3 separate regions of the Homo sapiens genome follow, and regions 1 and 3 are each linked to region 2. Evidence: fine-mapped expression QTL. A gene starts in region 2. Each other region holds a variant in brackets. All regions are shown on one strand. Distances are between the middles of the regions.

Region 1 (2,767 bases), 220 kb before region 2:
GTGATTCTCCTGCCTCAGCATCCTGAGTAGCTGGGATTACAGGCATGCACCACCACGCCCACCTAATTTTTGTATTTTTAGTAGAGATGGAGTTTCACCATGTTGGTCAGGCTGGTCTCAAACTCTTGACCTCGTATTCTGCCTGCTTTGGTCTCCCAAAGTGCTGGGATTACAGGCATGAGCCACAGCCCTCGGCCACTTGTATGTATTTTGTTTAGAATTTTTGCATCTATCCTCATGAGTAATATCAGCCTAAATTATTATTTTCCTATAATAGCTTTGAATATTAGGATTATGCTGGTCTTATAAAAATAAGTTAAGGAGTGTTCTCTTTTTTTCAATTCTCTGAAAAAGTTTGTTCTTCCTTTTATGTTTAGTAGAGTTTTCCAGAGATCCAACTAGTCCCAGAGAGTTTTGTATTTTGTTATTTTTAAATTTTAAATTTTAAATTTTTATTTATTTATTTTTTTGAGACAGAGTCTTGCTCTGTTGCCAAGGCTGGAGTACAGTGGTGCAATCAGAGCTCATTGCAGCCTCCACTTACCAGGCTCAAGCGGCAATTCTCTGCCTCAACCTCTCAAGTAGCTGCAGCCACAGGTGTGTGCACCATTATGTCTGGCTAATTTTTGTAGTTTTTGTAGAGATGAGGTTTTGCCATGTTGCCCAGGTTGAGCTCAAACTCCTGGGCTCAAGCAAACCACCCATCTTGGCCTCGCAAAGTGCTGGGATTACAGGCATGAGCCATTCTGTCTGGCCAGGTTTTTTATTTTGTTTGTTTGTTTCTTTAGCTGTTGTTGAAATTTCAAGAAGACAGAATTAATTTATCCAATAACTGTGGGGTTTTTGTTTTTGTTTTTGTTTTTTTTTAAAAAAACACAGCTGTTTCAGTAACGTTATGTCTTCATTATTTGCTTCTCTCTCTCTCTTTTTTTTTTATTGAGTTGGAATTCTTTTTCTAACTACCAGAGATAAAAGGTTAACTCATTAACTTTCAACCTTGGTTCTTGTCTTATATACGCATTTAAGGATATCAATTTTCCTATCAGTGTGAAAGTATTGTATATTCATTACTATTCTGTTCAAAATATTTTCTAATTTCCTTTATGATTTGTTTTTACACGTGGGTTATTTAGTGATGTATTATCTATTTTCTAAACATAGGAGAATTTTCTAGATATTGTTTTATTACTAATTTCTATTAGTAATAAAAATTGTATTTTTAATTGTATTGTGGTCATGAACTTATACAGTATGCCTTCTATGGACTTCTTGCTTCATGGCTTAATTTCTGCTGTATTGAGACAACCTTATTGGACACTTAAAAATTTGTAATTATATATTCCTATTAAGAAGATCGGCTGGGCACGGTGGCTCATGCCTGTAATCCCAGCACTTTGGGAGGCCGAGGCGGATGGATCATTTGAGGTCAGGAGATTGAGACCAGCCTGACCAGTATGGTGAAACCCTGTCTCTAGTAAAAATACAAAAAAAAAATTAGCCAAGTGTGGTGGTGCATGCCTGTAGTCCCAGCTACTCAAAAGACTGAGGCAGGAGAATCGCTTGAACCTGGGAGGCAGAGGGTGCAGTGAGCCAAGATCGTCCCACTGCACTCCAGCCTTGGTGACAGAGCGAGACTGTCTCAAAAAAAAAAAAAAAAAAAAAA[G/AAG]AATATCAAGAAATGATTCATCTCTAGTAATATTTTCCTTACATTCTATGCTTTTAATTTGTTTAATATTAATATAGCTTCACCAGTTGTTTTTAGCTCAACAGGGCATATATTTTTTCCATTATTTAATTTTCAAACTTTCTGTAAGCTTGTGTAATAGTTACTACTTTTGAAAACAGCACATGGCTGCGCAAAGTGGCTCATGCCTGTAATCCCAGCACTTTGGGAGGCCAAGGCAGGCAAATCACTTCAGGCCAGGAGTTTGAGACCAGCCTGGGCAACATGGCGAAACCTTATCTCTACTGAAAATACAAAAATTAGCCTGGTGTGGTGGTGCACTCCTGTAATCCCAGCTACTCATTGGGCTAAGGCACAAAAATTGCTTGAACTCAGAAGGCAGAGGTTGCAATGAGCTGAGATCGTGCCACTGCACTACAGCCTGGGTGAGAGAGCAAGACTGTATCTCAAAAAAGAGAAGAAAAATGAAAACAGCACATAATGAGTTTTTGTTTAATTCAGTATTAATGTCTTTTGATTGAATAATTTAGTAAATTTAATTTTAATGTAGTTACTAATGTATTGTATTAAATCTACCATTTTAGTATGTCTTTCTATTTGTTTTGCCTGTTCTTTGTTACTTTTTCACTCTATTCTTGCCTTATTTTAGGCTAATTTTTTAAATTCCATTTTCAGCTTTATTGGTTTGGAAATTAAAAGTTTTCTTGATATTTTATTCTCATACTATAAATTATAATATGTCCTTTTGACTCATCAAAATCTATTGTTAGACTTATACTTTCAGCCAAAATTGTAACAGGAACCAAACTTCACAATTTTGTAATAGGGACCAGTTTTATCCTCTCACCTGACACAACTGACAAAATATATGAAAAAATAGTTATAAAGATATTGGACATGTAAAAGCTAAGGACAGTGATCCCTGATGGGCAAGAAACCAGTGAGGTAAGCTCTATAATTGCCCCAGATTACTAAGTAGAAAAAGTTTCCAGGCTCTAGTACCCAGAGAAAGTACCCAGGGAGAACAAGGTAGTAGTTATGAATTGTGAAAATCTTGAAGGAAGCATAAGTTGCTAGTGTCTATAA
Region 2 (2,767 bases):
GATATCAGATTGAATTACCACAACATTACATTTTATCTGACAATGCTAGAAATCTCCATTACAAGCTGTATTTTATTTTCTGCATATATACTTTAGTATATTGAATAACTGATACTTCTGGTCTGAGAAAGTGCAGTAGGTGGTAACATAATTCTATTTCTGCTGCATATATGAACAGATCCAATAGCAATCAACTGTGTTTTGACCTGGCTTCCCAAATATGGTAGATGACTAGCCCATGATTCCTTGCTGGTACTATACAAAATGAAATCCTAGGTGAGTTTGCAGTTTAAACTGTCGTTTATGTTTGACAAAGTGTTCTTTTCTGAGGAATTCAGATTGGCATACTTTCGGTGGTTGGGGGGAAGTCTGTAATAAATTTTGGTCATTAGCAGCTTTTTATTTTTTGTTTGCATCGGAATGGTGCTTTCATTTACATATTAGCAATATAAAGTTATGATTGTGTCTATGTGTTTTATTAGTTGACGATCTGGAAATGTATTATAAAGTCATGCAAAAAGTTATTGTGATTTTTAAAATTTTTTTCACATCTATCAAGCGCCTAAAAAATGAGGACGCTTTTTTTTTCCTTAAATAAAAGACCTAATCAGCAGAATAGTATTCTATGGGTGATGACAAAACAGTTTTAAGAAAAATCCGATGGGCTTAAAGATTTTATTTTAGAGCACAAAATTGGTTACAACGAGTGACTAGTATCAAAATAAACATTTGTATTTGAATGTTGGCACAGGTCTGGCAAATTGAGATACAATCATTAGTCACATAAACGATGCCTTCTTTGAATATTTGAAATCAACATAATGGTTAAGTCTTATCACCAAAGTCATGTATCTGTATAAAACATATCTTAACTGAAGCTCAGCTCTTTAGGTGAGTGTTATAGACTGTCATGCATAGATTCCGAGGTCAGTAAGAATTTTTTTTTAAAAGAATAAGCTGTAAAGAAAGAGTTCTAGATAACATGAATCTTTTCCAAAAACCATTTAAAAATATTAACACTGAAACATTATCTGGTTCATAGCCAAGGAATTGTTCACAGAAGATTTGCCATTCTAGAAATCATTTCGGATTCATCCTTCAGGCTTTCATTATTAAACTGATAAAAGCTTGCACGTTTGCTTTTTCATTTTCTACTTAAAGGGAAATGGCCATTCTAGTTTTTTATTTCCCCCAGACCTGTTTCAGTAGTAGGTACGTTAGTTAGGAAATAAATTATGAAAAGTAGTGGATTCCCTAAGTTTCAGGGCCTGAAAAAAGTTTAGGAAAAGTGTAAAAGATAACGTGTAACTACTCCCCAAAGATCTTAATTGGTAACTACTGTTGCAAGAGGACGCGTGTGTGTTGACCACGTCTCAGAGAAGTTATTCTCACACAGCTGTTTATTCAGATAGCGTGGGGCGCGTTCATTTACATAATTTTTTTTTTTTTAAACAGCAAGGTTGAGTCAGACAGAGCAGTGCTCCTTTCAATTGTTGCATTTAAACCAATAAGGTTAGGACAAGAGAATAGCTGTGGTTTGCGTTGCAAAAACCAAAAAAAAAAAAAAAAAAAAAAAAAGAAAGCCCCGAGGCTCCATGGGCAGACCTACAAGGCTGCGCAAACAAATCGAGGGATGAGATTCTGCTGTTTCTTTGTCTAGGGTTCTCAGATGCTATCTGCCGCTGCTGTTTGGTGGGGAAGGAGCGCTGGGCGCAAAGCTGTTACCAAACAGAACGGTGGGAGCTGATGGCTCCGAGTTTGGGGCGAGGTAGAAACTCTCCAGTGCCACTTCCGACTTTAAGCCTTCCTGTTGCCGTCCACTGTGGCGGGTTTCTTCCTGGGGAACACGTTTTCGCTCAGTCGCTCGGCAGCCCGAGCCTGCGGCAGCGGCCAGGCGCCTGCCCCCTGCGCCGAGCTTTCCCCTGCAGAGGCGCTCCACTCCCAGAAGCGCCGCGGCTGCACCAGAGCGCCTGAGAGCCCCCGCGCGTACCCATCCAGGAGCAAAACTATGTCAGGAATGGAGGTTTGCTAACCCAGAAAATTCGAAGGAACACATTAAACTGGTGGATGCAGCAGATGTAAGCGCTGTAAGTACAAGCTGACTGTTTGAAAAATTGTAGTGACTGACAACAGCTGTCCTGTGGGCAAAGCCCAAGCTAACAGGAGCGCTTTTATTATTGTTTTGATTTGTTTTCAAAGAAAAACATTATGGCATGGGGAAAATTATGACACTTTGTACCTAGTACTTTATGAGCCACAGGGTTTCATCCTAGAAGTAGAATTCCCAACCTCCAAATTATGAGCGATCAGGATCATTAAGAAATAATTACAAATTAATTGTTAACAATTACTTTTGTTATGCTCTAGATAAATGTAATGCAGGACCATATTCTTGCAGGGAGATGACTTCATATCTCTTTTCTGAATTGCTGCACAAATCTCAAATATATTTGTGTGGTATTGAATAAAGCGGTACATATATGTTCATTGCAATACATAAGTAACTTTTACACACTTTGATATGAAAAAAATGAAGCATTTAACATTTGAAAGGACAACAGATAACAACATTAAATTGATAGCACTTTTTAAGGAAGAAAATATTTTTGCTTTAATAAATTTCCCAAACGTTATATTAAACAAACTTATCTTCAGAAGGTGATATAACAAACATTTACCCAATTAATATATTTTTCTCTTATTGACACTTTGTAAGGCTTGAGTGGACCTTGAAGTTTAAAACAAGATCTGTAAACTTTTGAATTAC
Region 3 (2,767 bases), 100 kb after region 2:
GCCAAATTAGATAAAAAGGATGAAATAATATATGTGTCTATATATGAAACCTCTTTATGCTGTAGAGTGACATAGAATCTAAACTCTCAAAACAAACAGAAGCACATTTTTTCAAATGCCAGCCAAACAGGCATGCTTCATCTCTCTTCTGGCCATATCTTGAAGGTTTCTCTCTTTTCCTTTAACAGGCAGCCCCTCTGCCTCACTACCAGTAGTATACAGCGGAAATGTACATTCTTGCTGTTTAATGGAACACAGCCTTACTGTTCTTGTTCATGAATATAAAAGGGAATGCAGTGAATGAACAGGAATCATCACAGCTCCTTAACCACTGCACTGGCCTGCCACCTGCAACTTTGGACCTCCCTTGCTCTGTGGCCTTGGAAAAAGCAGCCTATAAAATGGGAGCAATTACAGGGCTGTTAGGGGAACAATGTGAACCACCTAGAAAAATACTCATAAGTACTTCATGAACAAGAGCTATTATTTATTGCTTACTTTGGGGGTTCAGAGGAGGAAGCAGGAAACCATGCAGACTTTGTTATTCCAGGCAGCAAAGAGGGAGTGGGAAACAGAGAATTACAAGTGGCAGAAATCATAAGCAAAAAGGGTAAATAGTGATAAAGTATATTTAGGGGATTAGACTTGAAGAAGAATAGTAGCAGAAAATGTGTTGGATCAGTAATAAAAAGACTGCATCTTTGTTCAACTTTTATGGTTTACACTGCTATCTCACACTTATTATCCAATGAACTCCTTCTTTTTGCCAATAAGAAAAGTGTAGCTCAGAAAAATTAAATTATCTGTCCAAAAGGCAGATCCATCAACTGGCAACACCAGTCTTGTAATTGACCCAGGCTTAGAGAGAGCATTGAGTGCCAGGATTTCGTTCTGTGGGCATGGGAATGCCATGAATTAGGGACATGATGGAAGAACATGATGGCAATGGAGGGACATGCTGGAAGTGTACATTTGGAAGACCGATTTAATAGCAAGGAAAACTATTGTGCAGTCCTCTGGTAGAAAATAATAAAGGCCTAAAAAGTGGCTGGAACACTCTGTAGGAAGGAGGGAGGTAGGAGAGTCATTACAAATGAAATCCTGATAGGTCTTTCGACTGGATTTAGCTGTTTAGCCTTTCCCTTAGCACCCCATGGGCCCCTTGGTGTTGAAGCCA[A/G]TTTGGCCAGGTCCATGCTGGCTTTATTCTTCTTCCTCCCTCTTTGTACCACTTCTTGGCAGTTGGCCCATGTTTGAGATTCACTGGGTTTTCTCCACAGTCAAAATTAGTCTTTGGAATGTTGAAGTTCTTTCTCTTATTCTCTACTTGAGTATTATTTTCATGGTGTTGAAAGGGAGTCTCTTAAGTAAGGAGAAAATTAACACAATCGAGTGTCACGTATCTAATCAGTAAAAATGACCTGATTAGCCCCACCACAAGTTTGAGGGTTTTGGGGGTGTTTTTCCAGATCATTCAGGCAGTAGTTTAACCATGGTTTATTTTTTATGTGTATACAGTCTCTCTTGGTAATCTGTATTATTTCTTAATTGGCAAGAGAATCACATCCAACTCCCAAAATCTGATATTTCATATCTAAGTAGCCCAGTGATAGGGCCTTAAACCTTGAAAAAAGTTAATATTTTATTGATGATATTGCTCCCTTTAGACAGGAGAAAACACAATAATGGAACCTTTGGGTCTCGTAAGTTGTACAGATCATTTGGATAACACTTTTGGTTATGTGTTTATGTGTTTTTTATTTTTTATTTTTTAAAAAAACAATGTTTCAGCATAGTTTTTCCTTTCAAGATAGGAAGCTAATTTTCAAAGCTTAACCTTAATCCTTTCCTTGTGGGCAGCCAGCATGGGGTCTTAAAAATAAACCACTCATGTATTCAGAGTGCTCATTCCTGTTTTTCAGCTTATTTTCCCCCAAAACAAAAGATCTTGGATGGGGAGAATTTTTAAATGACATTCAGGTCCTGTTTGTGGCTGTAATATTAGCATTCTAAGTAAGGAATTGTTTAAGGTGCACTGAATGAGTATTTTTCTTTCTTTTGATTGATACTGCCCAAAGATTTGTCCTTGATTTGAGCATACTTAACAAGATTTTCACATGGACGAATAAATCTCATAAACCTGCTCACATTGTTAGCAACACACCTCACTGGGCTACCACAACTCCCAGTAATTGCTTGCCAGGGAGGCTTAGCTGCCCATGTAGGATTAGTACAGAGAGAGTTTAGGAACCTTATTTTCTTTTATTCCAGAAATTCAAAATGTAGGTAGCATATCCTGAGGAACTAGTCATGCTTTCTGAAATAGTTGCACTGTCTTCTGATAACTCCTGTCTCAAGATTAATTATTTAAATAGCACTTTTTTAAAGATAATATATTCTTTGTGATTCAAAGTAGAATAGCAATTGCTAGGAGTTTGTGTAGAGTATCATCTCATGGATATAAGTAGGTACATATTCAGAGAGGAGAGATACAAAAGACATACATTATGTATTTAATGTACTTATAAATTGAAAATAATAGGATAAGAATTAAAAGGCAAAATAATTCCCTTTCCTTTTTATTTTTAGTAAGAACACCATAAGTACTTTGTAGAGACCAAGTCAGAATGCTGAAGCTACTTAAAATTGGAACAATGACTTAGCCATTAAAATAGTTCTTAAATGTTGACTTAAAGCATTTAAATTAGACAATTTATATTATGTGTTTACTTATTTTGTTTTACTGTTAAATTTTTTGTTTTCAATTTAG

Direction of the effects. Alleles are on the strand shown, and positions count from the first base shown. SD is a standard deviation of normalised expression in the study named.
In carriers of allele AAG in region 1, the expression in subcutaneous fat of the gene that starts at base 1,665 in region 2 tends to be higher than with G alone (moderate effect, 0.67 SD a copy in TwinsUK).
As copies of A replace G in region 3, the expression in anterior cingulate cortex of the gene that starts at base 1,665 in region 2 goes up (moderate effect, 0.67 SD a copy in GTEx).

The links. PIP is the estimated chance that this variant, and not a neighbour inherited with it, causes the effect.
Region 1: its variant is fine-mapped to the expression of EYA1 in subcutaneous fat (TwinsUK, PIP 0.95).
Region 3: its variant is fine-mapped to the expression of EYA1 in anterior cingulate cortex (GTEx, PIP above 0.99). The same link has a PIP of 0.9 or more in cerebral cortex.

The regions. Positions count from the first base shown.
Region 1 is chr8:71,578,114-71,580,880 of GRCh38, reverse strand. No RefSeq gene overlaps it. Among named protein-coding and RNA genes, the nearest start is that of EYA1, 220 kb to the right of the region's middle. The variant G/AAG (reference allele first, on the strand shown) is at 1,664.
Region 2 is chr8:71,360,967-71,363,733 of GRCh38, reverse strand. It overlaps EYA1 (EYA transcriptional coactivator and phosphatase 1), which reads left to right and starts at 1,665. Exons shown (of 18, transcript NM_000503.6): 1 at 1,665-2,087. RefSeq lists enhancers at 1,875-1,984, 1,737-2,258.
Region 3 is chr8:71,260,165-71,262,931 of GRCh38, reverse strand. All of the region lies in intron 11 of EYA1 (EYA transcriptional coactivator and phosphatase 1), which reads left to right. Among named protein-coding and RNA genes, the nearest start is that of EYA1, 100 kb to the left of the region's middle. The variant A/G (reference allele first, on the strand shown) is at 1,178.